Linked DNA regions of Homo sapiens: regions 2 and 3 are each linked to region 1. The links come from fine-mapping of genetic effects on gene expression. A gene starts in region 1. Each other region holds a variant in brackets. All regions are shown on one strand. Distances are between the middles of the regions.

Region 1 (7,329 bases):
AAATGAATAAATAAAATACAAAATTAGCCACAATCTCCGCCTCCTGGGTTGAAGTGATTCTTGTGCTTCAAGAAAAATAAATTTAAAAAATAGAAAATAGGGCGTGCCTGTAATCCCAGCTACTTGGGACGTTGAGGCAGGAGAATCTCTTGAACCCGGAGGCAGAGGTTGCGGTGAGCCGAGATCGCGCCATTGCACTCCAGCCTGGGCAACAAGAGTGAAACTCCATCTCAAAAAACAAAACACAAACAAAAAAAGAAGCGTCAGGATTGTGGAGCCAGCCCCCAATTTCACATCTGGAGGTTACAATAGTCATAACAACACTCTTCTTGCTTTATCGATTTATTTTACAAAGTTTCTTCCCATGCTGTACCCTATTTGATCCACTACCACAAATCTTATGTGGGAAGATATTATTCCCATTCTGTAGGGAAGGATGCTTAGGACTAGAGAGGTTAAGTGACTTGCTCAAGAGGGCATAGCTACAATTAAAGAAAGAAAAAGAAATTGATAGAACTGGGCCTAGAGGCTAAATTTTTTATTTCAAATCCCAGTCCTTGGTTTCCTCTTATCACCTCTACCTCATCTCTGATGACCCAGAAAGTAATGCAAAGTGAGAGAAAGCAGAGGGGAACTGAGAGTGTGTGAAGCACTTAGAGGCAGGAGGCCTGGACATTGCAAAGCACTTACAATCCTGCAGTGAGAGGGGAGCTACAGACAGAAGAACTCTTTGTGAAAGTGACAAGAATGACTGAACTTCCAACCCTCCAATAACTAGGAAACCAGGCATACGACCGCTTTAATTCCTAAATTCTGACTATTATACTGCTCTGTACTAACAGAAGTATATTGAATACTTACGATATTCATTTAACTACTTACTGAGTAGTTACTATGTGCTAGTTACAGTGCCAAAACAGTTGAGATAAAAAACAGCAATGATTAAAATTTTCCAAAGTAGAATTAAGTGGCTAACATTTCCTAAGCCTTTTACATGTAGCATCTCATTTAATCCTCACAGAGCTCCTGAAGAAGTGTCATCAGAATAACATTTCGTAGAAGAGGAAACTGAGACACAGAGAGGCTAAACATATTGTCCTAAAGTTACAGAATAAATGGTGGAGGCAGAATAAGAACCCAGGCAGCCTAGTTCTATATCCTGCGCTCTTCACCACCACCCAATCCTTCCTGCCCAATCTTGCTTGGCTGGAAGTCACATGCAGTGATGCAGAGAGACCAATAATACTAATTAATTCCAGGAACTATTTGTTGAATGCTCATTAATACATGAAGCCCAGGGGCAAATTCTCGCAACTCCATGAAATACATTCATCTTCATTGTCTTTTTCAAATGTGGAAACAGAGACTCAGAGAAGTGAATTTACTTGTCCAAGGTCACAGAACTCTACCTTAGCTAATGTTGACCTGGTGCTTACTACATATCTATCAGAAACTACCCTAAGCGCAACTCATCTAATCCTCATAGTAACACTATGAGGTAAATTCCATTATTACCCATCCTTCTTCTTCTTTTTTTTTTTTTGAGATGGAGGCTCACTCTGTTGCCCAGGCTGGAGTGCAGTGGCACTGTCTTGGCTCACTGCAACCTCTGCCTCCCAGGTTCAAGCAATCCTCTCACCTCAGCCTCCCAAGTAGCTAGGATTACAAGCATGCACCACCACACCCGGCTAATTCTTGTATTTTTAGTAGAGATGAGGTTTCACCATGTTGGTCAGGCTGGTCTTGAACTCCAGACCTCAAGGGATCCGCCTGCCTTGGTCTCCCAAAGGGCCAGGATTACGGGCATAATCACTTGTCCAAGGTCCCACACTAGTAAGTAGCAAAGCCAAGATTCAGTCTAGCTTAAAGTCTTCCTTGAAACAACTTAATGCTGACACTTGCCTACATAATGGTGGAGCAGTCATTCAAACCCAGGTCTAATTCCTGCATGACAAGGATGGCTCTCAAAACTGCTGCAGTGCAGAGAGGCGCTAGAAAAGTGGGGAATAACAAGTGCTCTGGGGACTGCAAGGAAGAGGCATTTAAACTGCATCTTGAAGGAAAAAGTACTTGCTGGACAAAAAGAGCCATCATGCAATTTAATATTTGTAAAATAAATGAAAAATAAGTAACCCTATCCAACAGAAGACTTTTAAAAAGATGGCCCAGTAATGAAGAGCAGAGAAATTAAACTTTCTTTCCCACAGTAGGCTTTAAAGGGACTGAAGCCTGTTATCACTCGCCTGCTACAGCTTGGGCTTCTAAAGCCTACAAACTCTCCTTACAATTCCCCCATTTTACCTGTCCCAAAACTGGACAAGTCTTACAGGTTAGTTCAGGTTCTGCACCTTATCAACCAAATTGTTTTGCCTATCCACCCTGTGGTGCCAAACCTGTACACTCTTTTGTCCTCAATACCTTCCTCCACAACTCACTATTCCATTCTTGATCTTAAAGATGCCTTTTTCACTATTCCCCTGCACCCCTCGTCCCAGCCTCTCTTTGCTTTTACCTGGACTGACCCTGACACCCATCAGTCCCAGCAGCTTACCTGGGCTGTACTGCCGCAAGTCTTCAGGAACAGCCCTCATTACTTCAGCCAAGCCCTTTCTCATGATTTACTTTCTTTCTACCCCTCTGCTTCTCACCTTATTCAATATATTGATGACCTTCTACTTTGTAGCCTCTCCTTTGAATCTTCTCAGCAAGACACCCTCCTGCTCCTTCAACATTTATTCTCCAAGGGATATCAGGTCTCTTCTTCCTTACTCTACTCTTTACAACAGGGCTTTATGAAGTCACCCCCGCCTTCTTGGACTGCACCTCACAAACTTACACCACTATCCATCATCTACCCAACTCCTATAAAACAACCCCTTCCCCATCTCCCTTTGCTGACTCCGTTTTTAGACTCAGTCCACCTGCACCCAGGTGATTAAAAAGCTTTATTGCTCACACAAAACTTGTTCGGTGGTCTCTTCACACGGGCACCGCGTGACAGGTTTCATTAGAAAGTACTTTTGATGAAGGAAAAAAAGTTTTTATTCCCTTTAATTCTGACCACGTATTTTTAAAAATCAACAAAGAATCGATAGGTGCAATTTGCCTTTTGTAACATTAAAAATCAGTTAATTCTGACTTCCAATATTGGTCTCCTTCAGAGACCTTTGCAAGACACTCTTTCAGGTCCTGAAACACAGACATTTAGAAACCAAAACAAGCTGGGGAATTCAGGCTAAGAACTAGAAGTAACAGGGGCCCGCGTACAAGTTGTGGCTCAAACGCTGCAGAGCTGGGTTTTCTTTTTCCTGGCAAACTGATTTATAACCACACGAAGGGCAGCTGCAGAACCAGTTAGACCATAAGTACTATTCCCAAACAGCCCTAGAGGAAGGACCATACAGGGATGGGAATGGCAAGGGGGATTCTGGGGGTCGTCCTTGTTCCCAAGTTCCGTGAGACGCCGCAAGTCTTAATTCTTGCAGGAGCCAGGGTCCCCATGGATCCTGCTGCCCAAAACGTGCGAGCCCGGGGAGTTGGCACAGCCTCAAGGCAGCCCGACAAGGTGCCTCCACGCCCCCTTGCGGACCCAAATGATTGAGGACGATGTGCCAATTAACTGATAGGTGCAGGGTTTCAGAAATGCTCTCTCAGTTTAACCTCACAAAAAGCCCTTGAATCAGCCCTGTTTTACAGATGTAAAACACCGAGGCTCAGGGGAGTGAAGGAAGACTTGTCAGCAAAAAGGAAAACCTAGTGAAGACTATCGTTGGTCTTGCTCCTTTTATCAAGGAGTAGAGGGGCTGGGGTCGCCTCGGGACCCCACAGCGACCCCTCTTGCTCTCTTCGCGGATGAGGCGCAGGCTGTCAGCCGGGAGGCCTGGCGGCGTCCAGGTACACGGGAAGACGGACAGCGCGGTGGGTGGCAGGGACTTTGCCCGGCACAGGACTGCAGCAGCCAGGCTAGGGCGCAGCGCGCACCACCCGCTCGTCGGCTTCTGCCAGGCAGCCCCGCTTGGCGAGCGAGTCCTCAGGGACCGAGGCTGCAGCAGCTAAGCGCGGGCGCACCGAGGACCATCCACGCGCCCGCAGCCGTTCCGGCGCCCCACGCGAGTCGCAAGCCACGAGCCAGGGAGCGCGTGCGCGCAGGACTGCAGCGGGCACGCGTTGGCAGTGCCATCGTGAGCTCACCCGCTGTGTCTCTTGCCTTACCGTAGCTGTTCCCCGGTGACCAAGACCTCAGCCATGCGCTCCAGCTCCCTTTGCTGCGCCCCGCCACTCCCGCTGGTGCTGCTGTCACTGCCAGCACTGCCAGTGCTGCCGCCCTCCTCCATGGTTTTAGGGCCGTGCGGCTACCACTGGCTCCGCTGTCCGCCGAGGGTTTGGGTGCTCGGATCAGTCTGCCCTCACAGACGCTTCCCGCGCCATCTTTGTTCGGGGCAGCTCCGCTGCTCTGACTGGATTGGCTGGAGAGGGAATCCCTATGGGTAGGCAGACGCGCTGGGCTAGTCCGGCCCCAGAAACTTGAGCTTGGGGGCGTGGCTAGAGCCCCTCATGGTCGGGGGGCGGGGCCGATGGAGGAAAATATAAACATCTGGGCGGGGCGCTGCTACTGAGCTGTGTGTGCTGCTGGAGGCTGAATTTGGTGAGCTCTCTTTACCCACAAAGCTCATGCTGTAGAATCCTGGGGACAGGCCTGGAGGTTATTAGTGTGAAGGCGTTTTTATTGTACGTTCCACACCCCAAGTTGCCAGAGAGCAAAACATAATTCAACAATCTGGCCAAATGGTCAACAGTGAAGGTTATACATGTCATTGAAGGGCATGGAGAAATTAAACATTCTTCTCTCCCCAACCTCTCTCTCCAAAGACGACTTGTTTGCCTTATGTTGTAATCAATAAGGAACGCCGGCCTAGGAATCAGGCTGACCTGGGATCCAGCTCCGCTCCTGTGATGTCCTATTTAAATGTGTTTAATCCTCCCTTACAAAATAAAAATAATTGCGGCTACCACTTTTGACATCTGCTGCATTAAAGATACTTCAGGTATGGTATTACCTCGTTTAATTATTACAATAATTCATAAAATAGGTATTGGTGTTCGTTTTGCATTAGAATGCAGGCTTGGAGAGGTGAAGTTACTTGTCTAAGGCAAGCAAATAATAAGTATAAGAAGAGCCGGGCACCGTGGCTCATGCCTGTAATCCCAGCACTTTGGGAGGCCGAGGCGGGCAGATCACCTGAGGTCAGGAGTTCCAGACCAGCCTGACCAACATGAAGAAACCCCGTCTCTACTAAAAATACAAAATTAGCCGGGCGTGGTGGTGCATGCCTGTAATCCTAGCTACTTCGGAGGCTGAGGCAGGAGAATCGCTCGAACCCGGGAGGCGGAGGTTGCTGTAAGCCGAGTTCGGGTGAGCGGAGTTAGTGCCATTGCATTCCAGCCTGGGCAACAAGAGCGAGACTCCGTCTCAAATCATCATAATAATAATAAGAAGAAATCTAACCGAGGCAATTCTGGCTTCAAAGTTATGCTTTGAAAAGACTGAAAGACTGCCTCTTAAAATGGGGATACAATGGTATTGTCTATCCGTAAAAGATTATGAAAAGAAATTTGATTAGTACCAAATAAATGTTCTGATTTTCTGTTTCATGCAGAGTCGGAGTTGGTCTGCAGGAAGGCGAAGTAATGTTTATGGCAGTATTCATGTGTGTTGAGCATTTATTCTGTGCTTTACATTGTGCCAAACACTTTATCCTCACAAAACCCTGGAGTTTGGTATTATTTTCAACTTACAAATGAGAAAGCTTAAGTATAGAAAGATGAAGTAATCTGCCTAGAAAGTTAGGTAGCCCTTAAACCCTGGCCATACTCAGCCCCACTCCAGAAAGAGAATAGTTGCCCAACTCCCTTGAACATCCGGGAGCAGACCAGCTCTGAATCTGCATGAGACAGATGTTAGGTGACTCTTTTGCCAAAAGAAATTATTTAAGTTTCTTAATTTTTTAAATAGGCCACAATAGACATGTAGACCAAGGCAGACATAGTTCTAGGTGACTGTGATTCTAAGAGCCTTATTCTGCATAAAATACATAAATCATTCAACAGAAGTCCCAGAGTTAATGAGATTAAAAGGTGTCTGTTGCTCATGTTTTAATCTTATAACTACTAAATAGAATATCAAGAGTTTGCACGGGCTTCTCAGTCAAACATGCAATTTCTATCTCAATTCTGTCGTTTGCTAATTTTGCAACCTTATGCTAGTTATTTCTCTTGGCCTCCCTTTCCTATCGATAAAACAGGAATAATAATTTCTACTTCATAGGGATGTTGCGTGGCTTAAATGAAATAATGTAATCCCAGTTCTTTGGGAAGTTAGGGTGGGAGGACTGCTTGAGGCCAAGAGTTCAATGCCAGCCTGGGCAACATAGCAAGACCCTGTCTCTACAAAAAAAAAACAAAATTAATTACCCAGGTATGGTTGTGCATACCTGTAGTCTCAGCTACTTGAGAGGCTGAGGTGGAAGGATCACTTGAGCCCAGGAATTCAAGGTTACAGTGAGCTATGATTGCACCACCGCACTCCAGTGTGTGTATCAGAGCAAGACCCTGACACTTAAAAAAAAGAAAAAATAAATAACATTAAAATTTCTATTATGTAAAGTTTCCAAGATCCATGTCAGTAACACAAATTTGTAACTTTAAGATAAAAAAGCACCTTAACATAAAGAAAAGAAAAGAAAATTCGAGTTAGGAAAATACCTGATGCTATTGTTCCAGTGACAGTGAGAGAGCATGATTTATTTTTCTTGCCTGATAAGAGGTGTGTGTAGGGGGCGGTGTGTGTATAGGTAGGTATATTTGAACAGGAAATGGGAACTGGTTTGCTGTTATTGTTTTAACCTTTTGACATATGACACACACCATGCTCCACTGGGTAAGAAGACAGATCCTTTTTCCTAACTTAGGGAAAAATTGGTGAGCCACATCCTGAGGACATGTCCATGACTGTGAGCCCAGGAGCAACTGGTTCCAGATAAACTGTAATTTTTTAGATATTGATCAAGGAGAAAAGGGCACTCATATGGCAACTAATTCAGCATAAATATTTCAGAAAAACAGAATTCTGACAAACCTTGGTTTGATTCTTGGCCATGTTTGGGCAAGCTCCTTATCGTCTCTGAATTTGCTGTCCCTCTTTTGTAAAATTTAGATAATAACACCAATCTCATTGGGTTATTGGGAGGATTAAATAAAATTTACTGAAAGCACTTATTACAGGTGGGAACTATTAAGTGTGAGCTTTCTCTTCTAGCTCTCCACACTTTT
Region 2 (7,329 bases), 180 kb before region 1:
CCCTCTTCAATCTCAGATCTCAGCCTGGGCTGGCCATGGGGAAAGGCCATGTGGAGTAGAACTAAGGAATTTCAGCCGACAGCCCCAGCCAACTTTGAGACACATACATGAGGCCAGTCAAGGTCAATCAGCCTCCAACCAATCTGCTCACTAACCACAAAGGTGTGTGGAGTCCCAACTGGCACCCATGGAGCAGTGGTGGATCACGCCAGCAGAGCTCTGCCCAGACTGCCAGAGCATAGGATTATAAGCAAATAAAGGGTGTTGCTATAAGCCGTGATTTGAGGTGGGTTTTTATTTTTATTTTTTTTTAAGCCATGATTTGAGATGGGTTTTTATTTTTATTTTTTTTGAGACAGAGTCTCACTCTGTCGCCCAGGCTGGAGTGAAGTGGCACAATCTCGGCTCACTGCAGCCTCTGCCTCCTGGGTTCAAGCAATTCTCCCACCTCAGCCTCCCAAGTAGCTGGAATTACGGGCGTGCACCACCACGCCCAGCTAATTTTTTGTGTTTTTAGTAGAGACGGGGTTTCACCCTGTTGGCCAGGCTGGTCTCAAATTCCTGACCTCAAGTGATCCACCCGCTTCGGCTTCCCAAAGTGCTGGGATTATAGGCGTGAGCCACTGTGCCTGGCCAGGTTTTTATTTTTTATTTACTTATTTATTTTTTTGAGTTGGAGTCTCGCTCTGTTGCCCAGGCTGGAGTGCAATGGCACTATCTTGGCTCACTGCAGCCTCCACCTTGTAAGTTCAAGCGATTCTCCCACCTCAGCCTCCCAAGTAGCTGGGATTACAGGTGCTTGCCACCACATCCAGCTAATTTTTCTATTTTTTAATAGAGACATGGTTTCACCATGTTGACCAGGCTGGTCTTGACCTCCTGGACTCAAGTGATCCGCCTGCCTCAGCCTCCCAAAGTGCTGGGATTACAGGCATGAGCCACTGCACCCCACCCTTGAGGTGGGTTTTTAGACAACAATAGAGAGCTGACACACTACTCTGTGGCAGGAATTGTGCCAGGTGAAGAAAATACCCTGGATACTAAGACATAGCCCCTGTTCTGCAGATGCTTAGAGTCTACTTAGGCAAACAGACATGTAACAGGGGAATTTCAAAGTAAATGTCATCAGTGCTCTAACGGGGCATAGGGAGGACTTAAGGATCCATGTAAATTTAGAGAAGAGGCATCAATCCTAGAACTGGGGAGCTGGTGAAGGCTTCTCAGAGGAGATAATTTCTAAAGGGAGTTTACATGAAGAAAGAATTTTCCAGGCAACAGTAAGACAGAACATTCTTCTTTCCACGAAGAAGAAAGTACATGTGCAAGGGCTGGAGGGAGTGAGATAGGGTCCCCAGGAAGGTAGGGGTAGTCTTTTTAATTGCTGTGTAAAGATGTCAGGGGTGGGCTGGAGGAGTAGCTAAGGGAAAGCTCTCATGGCCTTTGGCTTTTGAACTTAGGGTGATGGGAACCAAAGAAGGAAATCCTCTCTCCCTTCTTTCCTTCCTTCCTCACAGCCAAGAGGAGATCGTGTGCAATAGATACAGAGAAATGCTTCTCTGGTGCTTAGGTTGGCTGAAGGGAAGTTCTATTATGCCAGGGTCCAAGATAATGGGTAAAGCAGGCAAGAAGAAGATACCATTTCTCAAAAGGAGATACCATTTCTCGAAAGGTATTCCTTCTTCTTTTGTCACTTAATGAATACCTGAGCACAGAAAGCATTTAAGACTCATCTTTTAAAGATGCTATAAAAAATTTTTTTAAGCCAGTGGTAAGGTTTCCCACTTTATTAGTTTTGTGGCCTTGGGCATATGACTAACCACTTTACAAGTCAGTTTCCTCATTTGTAAAATGGAGATAATGACCGTATTGACTTCACAGGTAAATAAGGACAAATGGCGTAAAGTCTTAGCATACAGCCTGGCTCAGAATAAACCCTCAATATAAGGTCCTTAAATGGGGAAAAGTTGAGGGGAGTAACATGGGATTTAGCGTTAAACCTGTGTTTACATTCAGCCTATTTCACCTAGTAGTTCCTGCAGCCGTGTGAATTTAGAGACCATTTTAAAACTTGCTCAGGCTTAGTTTCCACATCTGAAAAATGTGGACGTTAATATCTACCTTGCAAGGTTGCATTGAGGGTTAAAGGATATCATATATATTAAATGCACAGAGCCTGCCATACAGTACAAATGCACACCCACACAGAGGTGATAGTATTTCTCAAATGTATATCAACAGTATTACTGTTAGACATTCTCTGTCACTCCAAAATCCTATTCTCTGACTAAAGCTACAAATCAGAAAAGTTGGATTACCAGAAATATATATATATATATATATATATATATATATGTCTATAACATATTTAGCACGGTAGGTCCATTCCACCAGTACCTATACATTACGATAACCTAATGAAAAGAAATGGCTGTGGTACAATTCTCATATTTTATTTTGTTAATGCATGATAAAAAATTAACGTCATCATTCAGATCCATTATTTGGAATGAAGAATTTAGTATTTCCTGACTGCCTAATTTGGCACTTTGAGGAATTTCCTCTGCACGCTGAGCCCCAAAATGCACTATTTTCTAGACCAAAAATGAAAACGTGCGTATATACAAGTGAGCTGAAAAGTTACAACACAAGATGATCATTTTGGTGAAAAATAATCCCCCCAAATAAGCAGCATGTCATGTCCTTAGAATATGTTACACTAGAAAGCTAGTAAAAATTCAGGCTAAGGAGGCAATTTAGAGTTCAAGTTTTATCACATATCAGCAAAGTTTTAGCCTTCCCTTAAAAACAGACACCTTCAAAGTGAAATCTTGCCAGAAGGGTTGATTTTTAATTATGTGTATATACAAACTTCTCTATTTTAACATTCAACATATTCAGGATTAATTCTAGAAAGATGCTATAGCTGATTTATAAAACAAAATGATTTAGGATCAGAAAGAAAATAGGGGCACACAATTTCATGTAGTCTCTCCCTAACTACCCCCAACCATAGCATCACAAGGTTTTTTTTTTTCCTAATGCCACAATTGAAACCTGTATTAACTTAAAAGTTGACACTAAAGGCAGGAATTAAGAAGTCATTTTTTATGGCTTTTAAGCACTTGAATGCTTTAGAACCCCCTTGAAAATGCTAGTGAACAGGTCTTATTCCTTTAAATGTTGCTTTGATTTGAATCTTGGTGAAATCTAGATTCCCTATTAAATAGCTGCATGCTAATTTTGGAGAAAGTACAATTTAAAACCTTTAACAACTACTCTATTGACTCTGAAGAAGGGGACTTTAGCATGTCGCTGTTTGGGCTAGAGAAGCATTTCAACACCTTTCTGCAAACTAAGATAAAAAACAATGAATGAGAGCTACAAATAGAAATCTAGTAAGGCAGTTCTATCATGTAGGAAAATGGTTTCCCAAATGTTTTCTACACTGACATTTTTTAAAAAAGATATGATACCCGGTTCTTCCACATTCAGTGTATAAAACTCAACTTTAGACATGTATGTGCGGAGAAGACTCGTATGTCCAAAACCATCCATTTGCATGGCAATCTTGTCTTTGCATTGCTTTGTGTCATTCTGGCTTCCCTCACCCACAGGCCACTGGAGGGCTGGGAGGCCCAGGAGCTCAGCACTCTAACTCCTCCATGACTTCCATGACAATCGTCCGTGGGCCCGTCAGAATCAGATTG[C/T]TCACGGTCCGGTAGTCTACATGCAGGACATTGAGCCCGTTGACAGAGACGACAAACTGACAGACCTAAAGGAAAGATGCAAAGAAAGAGCATCTATTATAGCGCCTGGTTTTGCACAAAGCTTTAATAAAGACAGTGTGTAGCCCTAACAGGTAACTTCATTCTTAAAATATCCAAATGTATCCAGCTGACGACTCCAATTCAATAATTTCCAAGGAGCTACACATTTTCTGGAAGGCAGTATAATTTAAAAAAAAAAAAATCGTTTTAGTGTTTTACAAAATTTGGCTTAAATCCTAACTCAGAGACATACTAGCTTTAGCTAGTATTTAAATACTAGCTAGGTATTTAAATTTCTGAGCTTTATTTCCCTCAACCCTAAAATAAGAATTAATAATAATAATAAGAGTAATACCTACCTTATAAGACTGTTGTAAGAATTAATGACATATATAGTTTCTACTTGCAGTAATTCACAGGCATGCTTGCTCCCAATTATTAATTATTAGTGTTGAGGACTCAACCAAAGAATGTAAAAAATACCAAAACACCTTGGGAACCATCATTTCCTTTTATTGTTTTCTGTGTGGGTAATATCGATGTAAACTTAAACATGATATTAAGTCCAAAAATATCTATACTTATTACTTAGATACAACAAAATTGGAGAGTACTGGGAAGAGTATTGGAAAGCTCTGTCACTGTGGAAAAGATGAGGGGACTTAGAATCAAAGATACAGATTTAAGTTATAGGTCCCTTTGGTGGAATACATTAATCAAGTAATTTCTCCTCTTCTATGTTTCAACGATATAAATGCCTCACTTGTACAACAGGTAAAAACGCCTATTCTCACAGGCTCACACTAGATAGTGCATTTGAAACCTCTTTGCAAACACCAAGCACTACACCGATGCTGAGTACTATTAATCTCTTTCCTTTCAAAAAATACCCACTTCTTTCACGGTCACAGGCAAAACAAAATGGAAAGCGGGCAGTAGTACACAGACTGCTTATTTACTCAATAAACACTCGCTGTTGTCATAAACCTTGATACTTTGCACTCCCCAACCTACTAGGGTGTTTTCTCCACATAAGATCACACTATTACTGTTTCTCTTTTCTTGGTTCCACAAATTTGTCTTCATGGATTCAGGGTACATCTTATACAAAATCAGCAGTTTTCAACCATGGTGGAGGTCACAGTCATAATCAAGGTCACACAAACAGGTCACAATCTATCCTGAACTAGGCCACAGTAATTTGCAAGACAATTTAGCAGTAATTTGCAATTTAGCAGGCATCAGCCTGGGCTTTGTTTTTTTCTGCTGCAGCAGACTCATGAGCCAAAGAATGAGAAGAATTTCACCTCCTTCCCAACCCAGAGCTTTAGACCCTAGACTTGGAAATTTCAAATCCCTTGTCTTTTCCACAGATACAGGGGTTTCTTTTTCCAAAAAGATGAATAGCCTTTTTGCACTGCCAAATAAGAGGGCAGGAGTTGCCAGGTGAGTGCCCTCTCCAGCTGACCCTTCGCAGGCTCCCTGAGATTAGCCATGTCTCCGCATCGCTCAGGGATCACATTTCACCATTTACTTTTTTTTTTTTTTGACATGGAGTCTCCCTCTGTTGCCCAGGCTGGAGTGCTGTGGCACGATCTCCTCCATCTCCCAGGCTCAAGCGATCCTCCCACCTCAGCCTCCCGAGTAGCTGGGATTACAGGTGTGTGCCACCATGCCCAGCTAATTTTTTGTATTTTTGGTAGAGAGGGGGTTCGCCATGTTGGCCAGTCTGGTCTTGAACTCTTGACCTCCGGTGATCCTCCCACCTTGGCCTCCCAAAGTGCTGGGATTATAGGTGTGAGCCACCACACTTGGCCTCAGCATTTAGTCTTAACCACAATTGTGTGTCCTCTGTCACACATCATGTTTGTTTTAATTGACCAGCATTTAAAATTTAGAAAATCTGCCAGGCACAGTAGCTCATGCCTGTAATCCCAGCACTTTGGGAGGCCGAGGCAGGTGGATCACTTGAGGTGGATCAGCCTGGCGGGTGGATCAGCCTGGTCAACATGGTGAAACCCCGTCTCTACTAAAAATACAAAAAAATTAGCTGGGCGTGGTGGCGGATGCCTGTAATCCCAGCTACTTGGAAAGCTGAGGCAGAAGAATCACTTGAACCCGGGAGGTGGAGGTTGTAGTGAGCCGAGATCACACCATTGCACTCCAGCCTGGGCAACAACAGTGAAACTCCATTTCAAAAAATAAAAGTAAAAAATAAAATAAAATTTGGAAAATCTTTGCATAAAAATCCAGACTCTGGGCTGGGTGCAGTGGCTCACATCTGTAATCCCAGCACTTTGGGAGGCCGAAGCGGGCAGATCACCTGAGGCCAGAAGTTCAAGACCAGCCTGGCCAACATGGTGAAACCCCATCTCTACTAAAAATACAAAAATTAGCCAGGTGTAGTGGCACACCTGTAATCCCAGCTACTCAGGAGCCTGGGGCAGGAGAATTGCTTGAACCTGGGAGGCAGAGGTTGCAGTGGGCCGAGATTCTGCCACTGCACTCTAGCCTGGGCAACAAAGCAAGACTCTGTCTCAAAATAAATAAATAAATAAAAACCCAGACTCTGGCTTCTCTGGGACAATCAGAAGCTGTGATCATACCAGGTGTAGATGGCCATGTGGCCATGGCTGAGTAGAGCCTGCCTGTTCTACACATGGCATGGACACTCATTTGCCACAGTCCTTACGGCTTCCTATCTTCCTAACACCTGGCTGACAGGCATGTGAGTTTGTGGTCCCTGATCTATGGCCACCAGAGGGAAAAGCGTTGAAGACAGGGTGGCTTGAAGCTTCAAGAACTGAAGGACCCCAATGTTTGTCAACAGATGAAAGGAGGTTGGGCGTGGTGGCACATGCCTGTAATCCTAACACTTTGGGAGGCTGAGGCAGAAGGATTGCTTGAGCCAGCCTGGACAACATAGTGAGACTCCGTCTCTACAAAATATATATATCTATATATTTAAAAAATTTAAAAAGACAGATGAAAGGAGAAATATAATTCAGTATATCCATACAGTGGAATATTATTCGGCCATAAAATGGAACATACAACATGCTACAACATGGGTGAGCCCTGAAAACATTATGCTAAGTAAAAGATGCCAGTCAGAATAGACCATAGAGTGTAAGAGCCCATTTATATGAAATGTCCAGAGTAGGCAAATCCACAGAGACAGCAAGTAGATTATTGATTACTTAGGGTTGGGAGCAGGGGTGGTGGGGTGGGGCATGGAAGTGGTTGGTAATGGGTACGGGGTTTCTTTTAGGGGTGATAAAAATGCTCTAAAATTGTTGTAATAGTGACATAAATCTGTGAATATATTAAAAACTACTGAATTCTACAGTTTACATGGATAAATTGCATGGTATGTGAACTATATCTCCATAAAGCTCTTAGTTAAGTAATGAAACAAAACAAAACAATAAACATTGAAGGGAAGAGGGCCCTGATGCTAACAGTGGGTAGATTCTTGGTCTACAAGGATCTCCCTTCTGTCTAGAAGGGAGAGGCTGGTTTGGTTCAAGATGGGGTCCTGTGCACCTCTTGATTGCAGAGC
Region 3 (7,329 bases), 82 kb before region 1:
AGTGTTATGCTATGTAAGTAATCATTGTACCTACATTGGGGCAAGATGAATTTCTGCCTTCATAGCTATGAACTGATGAAAATGGAGATTCCTTTAAGGTCCCTTCTCTCTTCCTAGAAGAATGATTAGAGTTCTATTTGAAATCCATGGAAGGGACTCAGGATTAGAAATTAGGTGCCTGGGACCCAAACACAGCTCTGCTACAAACTAGTCATGTACCTTCTCACTGTCTCCCAAACTCATATTAAATGAGGAAGATAATACCTGTTCCACTTCCTTCACTAAATTGTTGTTATCATCAAAAATCTTGGGGGCAAGTGAAGTTCTAAGTATATGAATGTATACTGTTTTTTTGTTTTTTGTTTTTTGTTTTTTTTTTTGAGAGGGAGTCTTGCCCTGTTACCCAGGCTGGAGTGCAGTGGCATGATCTTGGCTCTCTGCAACCTCTGCCTTGCAGCTTCAAGCAATTCTCCTGCCTCAGCCTCCTGAGTTGCTGGGATTACAGGCGTGTGCCACCATGTCTAATTTTTGTATCTTTAGTAGAAATGAGGTTTCACCATGTTGGCTAGGCTGGTCTCGAACTTCTGACCTCGTGATCTGCCCACCTCAGCCTCCCAAAGTGCTGGGATTACGGGTGTGAGCCACTGCGCCTGGCCCATGAATGTACACCCTTATTAAGAGTATAAGAGTATACAAGGTATAAGCATCTAATAGAACTCATTAAAGACCTTCTCATTCAGCATGTAACAGAAGTCATTTAAAAATCTTATTTAGAGGCCAAGCACAGAGGCTCACACCTGTAATCCCAGCATTTTGAGGCCAAGGAGGGTGGATTACTTGAGGTCATGAGTTTAAGACCAGCCTGGCCAACACAGTGAAACCCCATCTCTACTAAAAATACAAAAATTGGTTGGGTGTGGTGGTGCATGCCTGTAATCCCAGCTACTGTGGTGGGAGGCTGAGGCAGGAGAATCACTTGAACCTGGCAGGCAGAGGTTGCAGTGAACCGAGATCGCACCACTGTACTCCAGCCTGGGTGACAGAGCAAGACTCCGTTTCAAAAAAAAAAAAAGATTATTTAGATATTTTCCCAAATCAAACCTCTTCTGCACTTTAATCCATGCTTAGAAATAGCCAACAGGTGGCCGGGCGCAGTGGCTCATGCCTGTAATCCCAGCACTTTGGGAGGCCGAGGCAGGTGGATCACAAGGTCAGGAAATCGAGACCATCCTGGCTAACACGGTGAAACCCTGTCTCTACTAAATTTACAAAAATTAGCTGGGCGTGGTGGTGGGCGCCTGTAGTCCCATCTGCTGAGGAGGCTGAGGCAGGAGAATGGCGTGAGCCCGGGAGGCGGAGCTTGCAGTGAGCCGAGATGGCGCCACTTCCCTCCAGCCTGGGTGACAGAGCGAGATTCTGTCTCAAAAAAAAAAAAAAAAAAAAAAGAAAGAAAGAAAGAAAAAGAAATAGCCAACAGGCAACAGGCTTCTTTCCCAAAGTTAGTAACAGCAGAGTTGGTATAAGCGATATGAATTTTATTTAATATAATAATGGACAACCCCTTCTTAGAAGGTGGTAAGGACAACTGTCACACGTATGTCAACACAAGTGACAGAAACATAAAAACACTCTCTAGGAAACTGTATGCAAAGATGGACACAGTAGTTCCTCATGTGTCTTCCAGTGTGACTTCATTGCTTCTCCCATCCAGATGCTGAGTCCATTTCTATTTCCCTTGAACTTGGGCTAGCTTTGTGACTTGCTCTGACCAACGGGATGCAGTGAAAGTGAGGTTATTCTTCTTCTTTTTCTTTTTTTCTTTGAGATAGAGTCTCGATCTGTCACCCAGGCTGGAGTACGGTGACGTGATCTCGGCTCACTGCAACCTCTGCCTCCCGGGTTCATGCTATTCCCCTGCCTCAGCCTCCTGAGCAGCTGGGATTACAGGTGCATGCCACCACACCTGGCTAATTTTTGTATTTTTAGTAGAGATGGGATTTTACCGTGTTGTTCAGGCTGGTCTCAAACTCCTGACCTCAAGTGATTCACCCTCGGCCTCCCAAAGTGCTGGGATTACAGGTGTGAGCCACCATGCCCGGCCACGTTATGCAACTTCTAAGGTGATAAACTTGGCCTAGCTTTGTGACTGGCTTTGACCAACAGGATGCAATGAAAGTGACATTATGCAACTTCTAAGGTGAGGCTTTAAGAGGCCTTACAACTTCCACCTTTGCCCCTTGGAATGCCCTCCTGAAATCACCATGAAAGGGGGCAGGTCTAGCTTATTAGAGGGGAAGAGGCCACAGGAGGAGGACCAGGTTGTCCAAGCAACAGCAAGCACCAGCTCTCAGACATGTGAATGAGGGCATCCTGGACCTTCCAGCCCAGCTGACCCTTCAGCAAGCAGATGAATGTGCCCACATGAAACCAATAGAGTAACCACCACGCAAACCATGTAATCAGAAGAAATAACACATCATTGTTGTTTTAGACTGCTAAATCTTAGTATGACTTGTTTTGTAGGAATAGATAGCTGGAACACATTTGTATGAATAAGCAGTGGCAAAGATACATGAAACCACACACACTGAGGCATGTTACATAGCTCGGAAAGTCACAACAGAATGATGGATGAACACTGAAGTTCCAGGGAATAAACTGAATAGAATAAAGCCACATGGAATGATGACAAGAATCTAGAAAAGAAAATAGAGGCCGGGAGCAGGGGCTCACGCCTGTAAAATCCCAGCACTTTGGGAGGCCAAGGTGGGCGAATCACTTGAGGTCAGGAGTTCAAGACCATCCTGGCCAACATGGTGAAACCCTGTCTTTACTAAAAATACAAAAATTAGCCGGGCATGGTGGCGCGTGCCTATAATTCCAGCTACATGGGAGGCTGAGGCAGGAGCATCGCTTGAACCCAGGAGGCGGAGGTTGCAGTGAGCCAAGATTGCACCATTGCACTCCAGCCTGGGCGACAGAGCAAGACTCTGTCTGAAAAAAAAAAAAGAAAGAAAGAAAGAAAAAAAAAATAGAAGGACCCATGTGCATGCCCAGGCAAGAAATACCACCATTCCTTCATTTCTTTTGACCCTCAAATAAGCTGTCTTGGAGGACAAAATGGAAGAAAAACTAGCGTCCTCAGTTTTCTGGTTTTA[G/C]ATATCACTTTCTCTAAGAAATCTGCAATTCCTACAAATCTGGACCATGTACCATTTCTAAGGTCCCTCTCGAAGCCTAGGGGAATTACTTGCTCACTTGATTAGAAGCTTTTTGAGACCAGAGTCCCTGTCTATGTGGTTCACAGTTTTTTCCTAGCACAGTAGGTTTTCAAAAAGCTAAGTGAATAAATTAAATTTAATTATATGCATTCTCCTGCTATACATCATTATCCAAGTATATACTAAAAACAACCCCAAGCTGGGTGCAGTTGCTCACTCCCACCTGCAATCCCAGCACTTTGGGAGGCTAAGGCAGGAAGATCCCTTGAGCCCAGGAGTTCAAAGTTGCAGTGAGCTATGATTGTGCCACTGCACTCCAGCCTGGATGACACAGCAAGACCCTGTCTCTGGCCAGGGACAGTGAATCATGCCTGTAATCCCAGCACTTTGGGAGGCCAAGGCAGGTAGATCACCTGAGATCAGGAGTTCAAGATCAGCCTGACCAACAGGGTGAAACCCCGTCTCTACTAAAAACACAAAAAAATTAGCTGGGTGTGGTGGTGGGTGCCTATAATCCCAGCTGCTTGGGAGGCTGAGGCAGGAGAATCACTTGAACCCAGGAGGCAGACGTTACAGTGAGCTGAGATTGTGACATTGCACTTCAGCCTGGGTGACAGAATGAGACTTCATCTAAAAAAAAAAAAACAAAAAAAAAAAACAAAAAACCCTGTCTCTTAAAAAAAAAAAAAAAAAAGGAGACCTGTGTGGAGATAATCAAGAGACTTTGGCACTATTGATAGTCTCCATTTAAGACACAGACACAGACTCCTGGCCTTTATCCCTGGTTCTGACCACTCTGTCCCTTCCAGTTCAGTGAATTTCCTTTCAGGGAATGGGGAGGGCCAGTGGATGGGGTTAACTTGTGTCATTTCTTGTAACTAGAAACATGACCTGCCAGCCCTCTAGAGCTCCTACTAAGTATCTGGTGGCCTCTGGACAAGTGACTGGTTAGCTGCTTCTGCCAGTGTGAGCTTTAGGACTGAGGCCAGCTGGCATGCCTGCCTGGATTGGATCAACTTGCCATTTACAACATGCTCCACCAGCCTTAGCGCTTCCTTATTTCACTTCCCCTTATAATCAACTAATGTCCCCATCCAGGTTCTTATTTTGAAGACCACGCCTTTCGTGGGATTTTATTTTAGGATTAATATGTAGTCGCAATGTTAAAGCAAGAGTTTGACTTACTACTTGTTGCAATTATTTTTGCCATATGACAAGCTACTCCCAAACTTGGTGGCTTAAAATAACCATCATTTAATTATATGTTAGTATTGTATGCATTGTCTGGGGTTCACCTGGGCAGCTCCTCTATGACTCTAGCTTGGGATCACTCACAATTACATGCAGATGATGGCCAGAAGTGGATCGTTGGCTCTGCGGTACCCCTCAAAATAGCCTCTCTCCAGTAAGGAAGTCTGGACCTGGTGATGCGGGGCTCAAGAAAGAGGAAGCAGATGCTGCCAAGATGAGTTCTTCTCCTTCTCTTCTCCCGCACCCTCCCCTTCCTTCTTCTTCCAGCTTTACTCAGAGATAATTCACATACCATACAATTAACCTATTTAACACGTACAATTCAGTGGTTTTTAATATATACCTCATGCCTTATATAAAAATTATGTCAGCAGGGTGCAGTGGCTCACACCTGTAATCCCAGCACTTTGGGAGGCCAAGGTGGGTGGATCACCTGAGGTCAAGAGTTCGAGACCAACCTGACCAACATGGAGAAACCCCGTCTCTACCCAAAATACAAAATTAGCTGGGCGTGGTGGCACATGCCTGTAATCCCAGCTACTTGGGAGGCTGAGGCAGGAGAATCGCTTGAACTCAGGAGGGAGAGGTTGCGGTGAGCCAAGATCACACCATTGCACTCCAGCCTGGGCAATAACAGCGAAACTTTGACTCAAAAAAAAAAAGAAAGGAAAAAAATTATGTCAAAATGGATTATGGAACTAAACATTAAGAGCTAAAATTATAAAACTCCTATGTTTGAAAGAAAACGTAAGTAGCAAGTTTCCATAGGCTTGGATTAGGCATGTTTTCTTAGATAGGAGGCCAAAAGCACAAGCAACATAACAGAGAAATAGACAAATTGGACTATTTCAAAATTAAAAACTTTTGTGCTACAAACAATACCATCAAGAACAGAATGGGAGAAAATATTTGCAAAGACTATGTCTAATAACAGATTTGCATCCAGAACATAATAACTCTTAAAATTCAATCATAGAGGCCGGGTGCAGTGGCTCATGCCTGTAATCCCAGCACTTTGGGAGGCCGAGGTGGTTAGATCACCTCAGGTTGGAAGTTCAAGACCATCCTGGCCAACATGGCAAATCCCTGTCTCTACTAAAAATACAAAATTAGCCAAGTGTGGTGGCGGGCACCTGTAATCCCAGCTACTCAAGAGGCTGAGGCAGGAGAATCGCTTGAACCCAGGAGACGGAGGTTCCAGTGAGCCAAGATTGTGCCACTGCACTCCAGTCTGGGCAACAGAGCAAGACTGTCTCAAAACACACACACACACACACACACACACACACCAATATTTGCCTGCTGCAAGCACTCACCAGGTTTTGCTTGTGCATGTGAGCTGATTTCCACCTTTCCTGGATCTATATCTGACTCAGATTTCCCAGACCCGTATTAACCTAGAGGGAAGGCAGCACTACAATAGAAGGAACTACTACATTTAGGGGCCAGTACAAGAATAGAAATAAGCTGATAGCGATCTCCTTGTACACTGGGAAAAAAAATTCAAAAGAGCTGAGGAGGCCCTGTGTAACCTGGGAATAGATGTGAATGATGTACAGGAGCAAAAGCCAGGGAGGGAGACAAAATGGCCTGTGGGGCTTAGGTCAAAAAGATGCTTCAGAATTTAGAAAGAGAGCTTTAAAAAACAAGTCATGTGTTAATATGATCAATTATTTTTAAAAGCAAAACAGACTGGGCATGCTGGCTCACACCTTAATCCCAGCAGTTTGGGAGGCCAAGGTGGGAGGATTACTTGAGCCCAGGAATTCAAGACCAACCTGGGCAATATGGCAAAACCCCATCTCAACAAAAAATACCAAAAGATTAGTTGGGTGTAGTGGCACATGCCTGTAGTCTTAGCTGCTCAGGAGGCTGAGGTGGGAGGATCACTTGAGCCCAGGAGTTTGAGGCTGCAGTGAGCTGTGATTGCACCACTGTGCTCCAGTCTGGATGACAGAGTGAGACCCTGTCTCCAAAAAAAAAAAAAAAGTTAATTATTCATTCACCCAAATATTAAAACCATTACCTTGGCCAGGCATGGTGGCTCACGCCTGTAATCACAGCACTTTGGGAGGCCAAGGCGGGTGGATCACCTGAGGTCAGGATCTTGAGACCAGCCTGGCCAACATGTTGAAACCCCATCTCTACTAAAAATACAAAAAATTAGCCGGGCGTGGTGGTGGGCACCTGTAATCTCAGATACTCGGGAGGTTGAGGCAGGAGAATTGCTTGAACTGGGGAGGTGGAGGTTGCAGTGAGCCAAGATCGTGCCACTGAACTCCAGCCTGGGTGACAGAGTGAGAATCTGTCTTAAGAAAAAAAAAAAAAAAAAAGAAGCTATCTGACCTATCTTGTTTGACTGTAGGTCATAAGACCCCCATTCCAGAGAGGGTCTTACCCCACACTCAGAAGGAATGCATGCTCAGAAAGGCCAAGAAGAATCTAGATAGACGGGCTTTACTGGGTTTCCCCACTGAGTCTATTAACCGTAGATCATACCCTTTTTGTCCAATCATATTTCTTTCTTTCTTTTTTTTTTTTTTTGAGACAGAGTCTTGCTCTGTCACCCAGGCTGGAGTGCAGTGGCACAATCTTGGCTTACTGCAACCTCCACCTCCTGGATTCAAGTGATTAAGTGATTCTCATGCCTCAGCCTCCCAAGTAGCTAGGATTATAGGCGTGTGCCACCATGCCCAGCTAATTTTTGTATTTTCAGTAGAGACGGGGTTTCACCATGTTGGCCAGGCTGTTCTCAAACTCCTGACCTCAAGTGATCTGCCTGCCTTGGCCTCCCAAAGTACTGGGATTACAGGCGTGAGCCACCACGCCCAGCCTCCAGTCATATTTCTACACAACTGTT

The links. PIP is the estimated chance that this variant, and not a neighbour inherited with it, causes the effect.
Region 2: its variant is the best candidate, but not a certain one, in a credible set for the expression of DEPTOR in whole blood (INTERVAL, PIP 0.78).
Region 3: its variant is the best candidate, but not a certain one, in a credible set for the expression of DEPTOR in whole blood (TOPMed, PIP 0.87).

What each region holds. Positions count from the first base shown.
Region 1 is chr8:119,870,852-119,878,180 of GRCh38, reverse strand. It overlaps DEPTOR (DEP domain containing MTOR interacting protein), which reads right to left and starts at 4,459. Exons shown (of 9, transcript NM_022783.4): 1 at 4,213-4,459. The coding sequence starts at 4,334. RefSeq lists enhancers at 3,722-3,771, 3,862-3,961, 3,596-4,096, 4,162-4,421, 4,097-4,597 and 1 more and a silencer at 4,441-4,613.
Region 2 is chr8:120,046,019-120,053,347 of GRCh38, reverse strand. It overlaps DEPTOR (DEP domain containing MTOR interacting protein), which reads right to left. Exons shown (of 9, transcript NM_022783.4): 9 at 2,430-3,772. The coding sequence ends at 3,644. Among named protein-coding and RNA genes, the nearest start is that of COL14A1, 75 kb to the left of the region's middle. RefSeq lists enhancers at 4,023-4,882, 4,883-5,742. The variant C/T (reference allele first, on the strand shown) is at 3,708.
Region 3 is chr8:119,953,275-119,960,603 of GRCh38, reverse strand. All of the region lies in intron 3 of DEPTOR (DEP domain containing MTOR interacting protein), which reads right to left. Among named protein-coding and RNA genes, the nearest start is that of DEPTOR, 83 kb to the right of the region's middle. The variant G/C (reference allele first, on the strand shown) is at 3,159.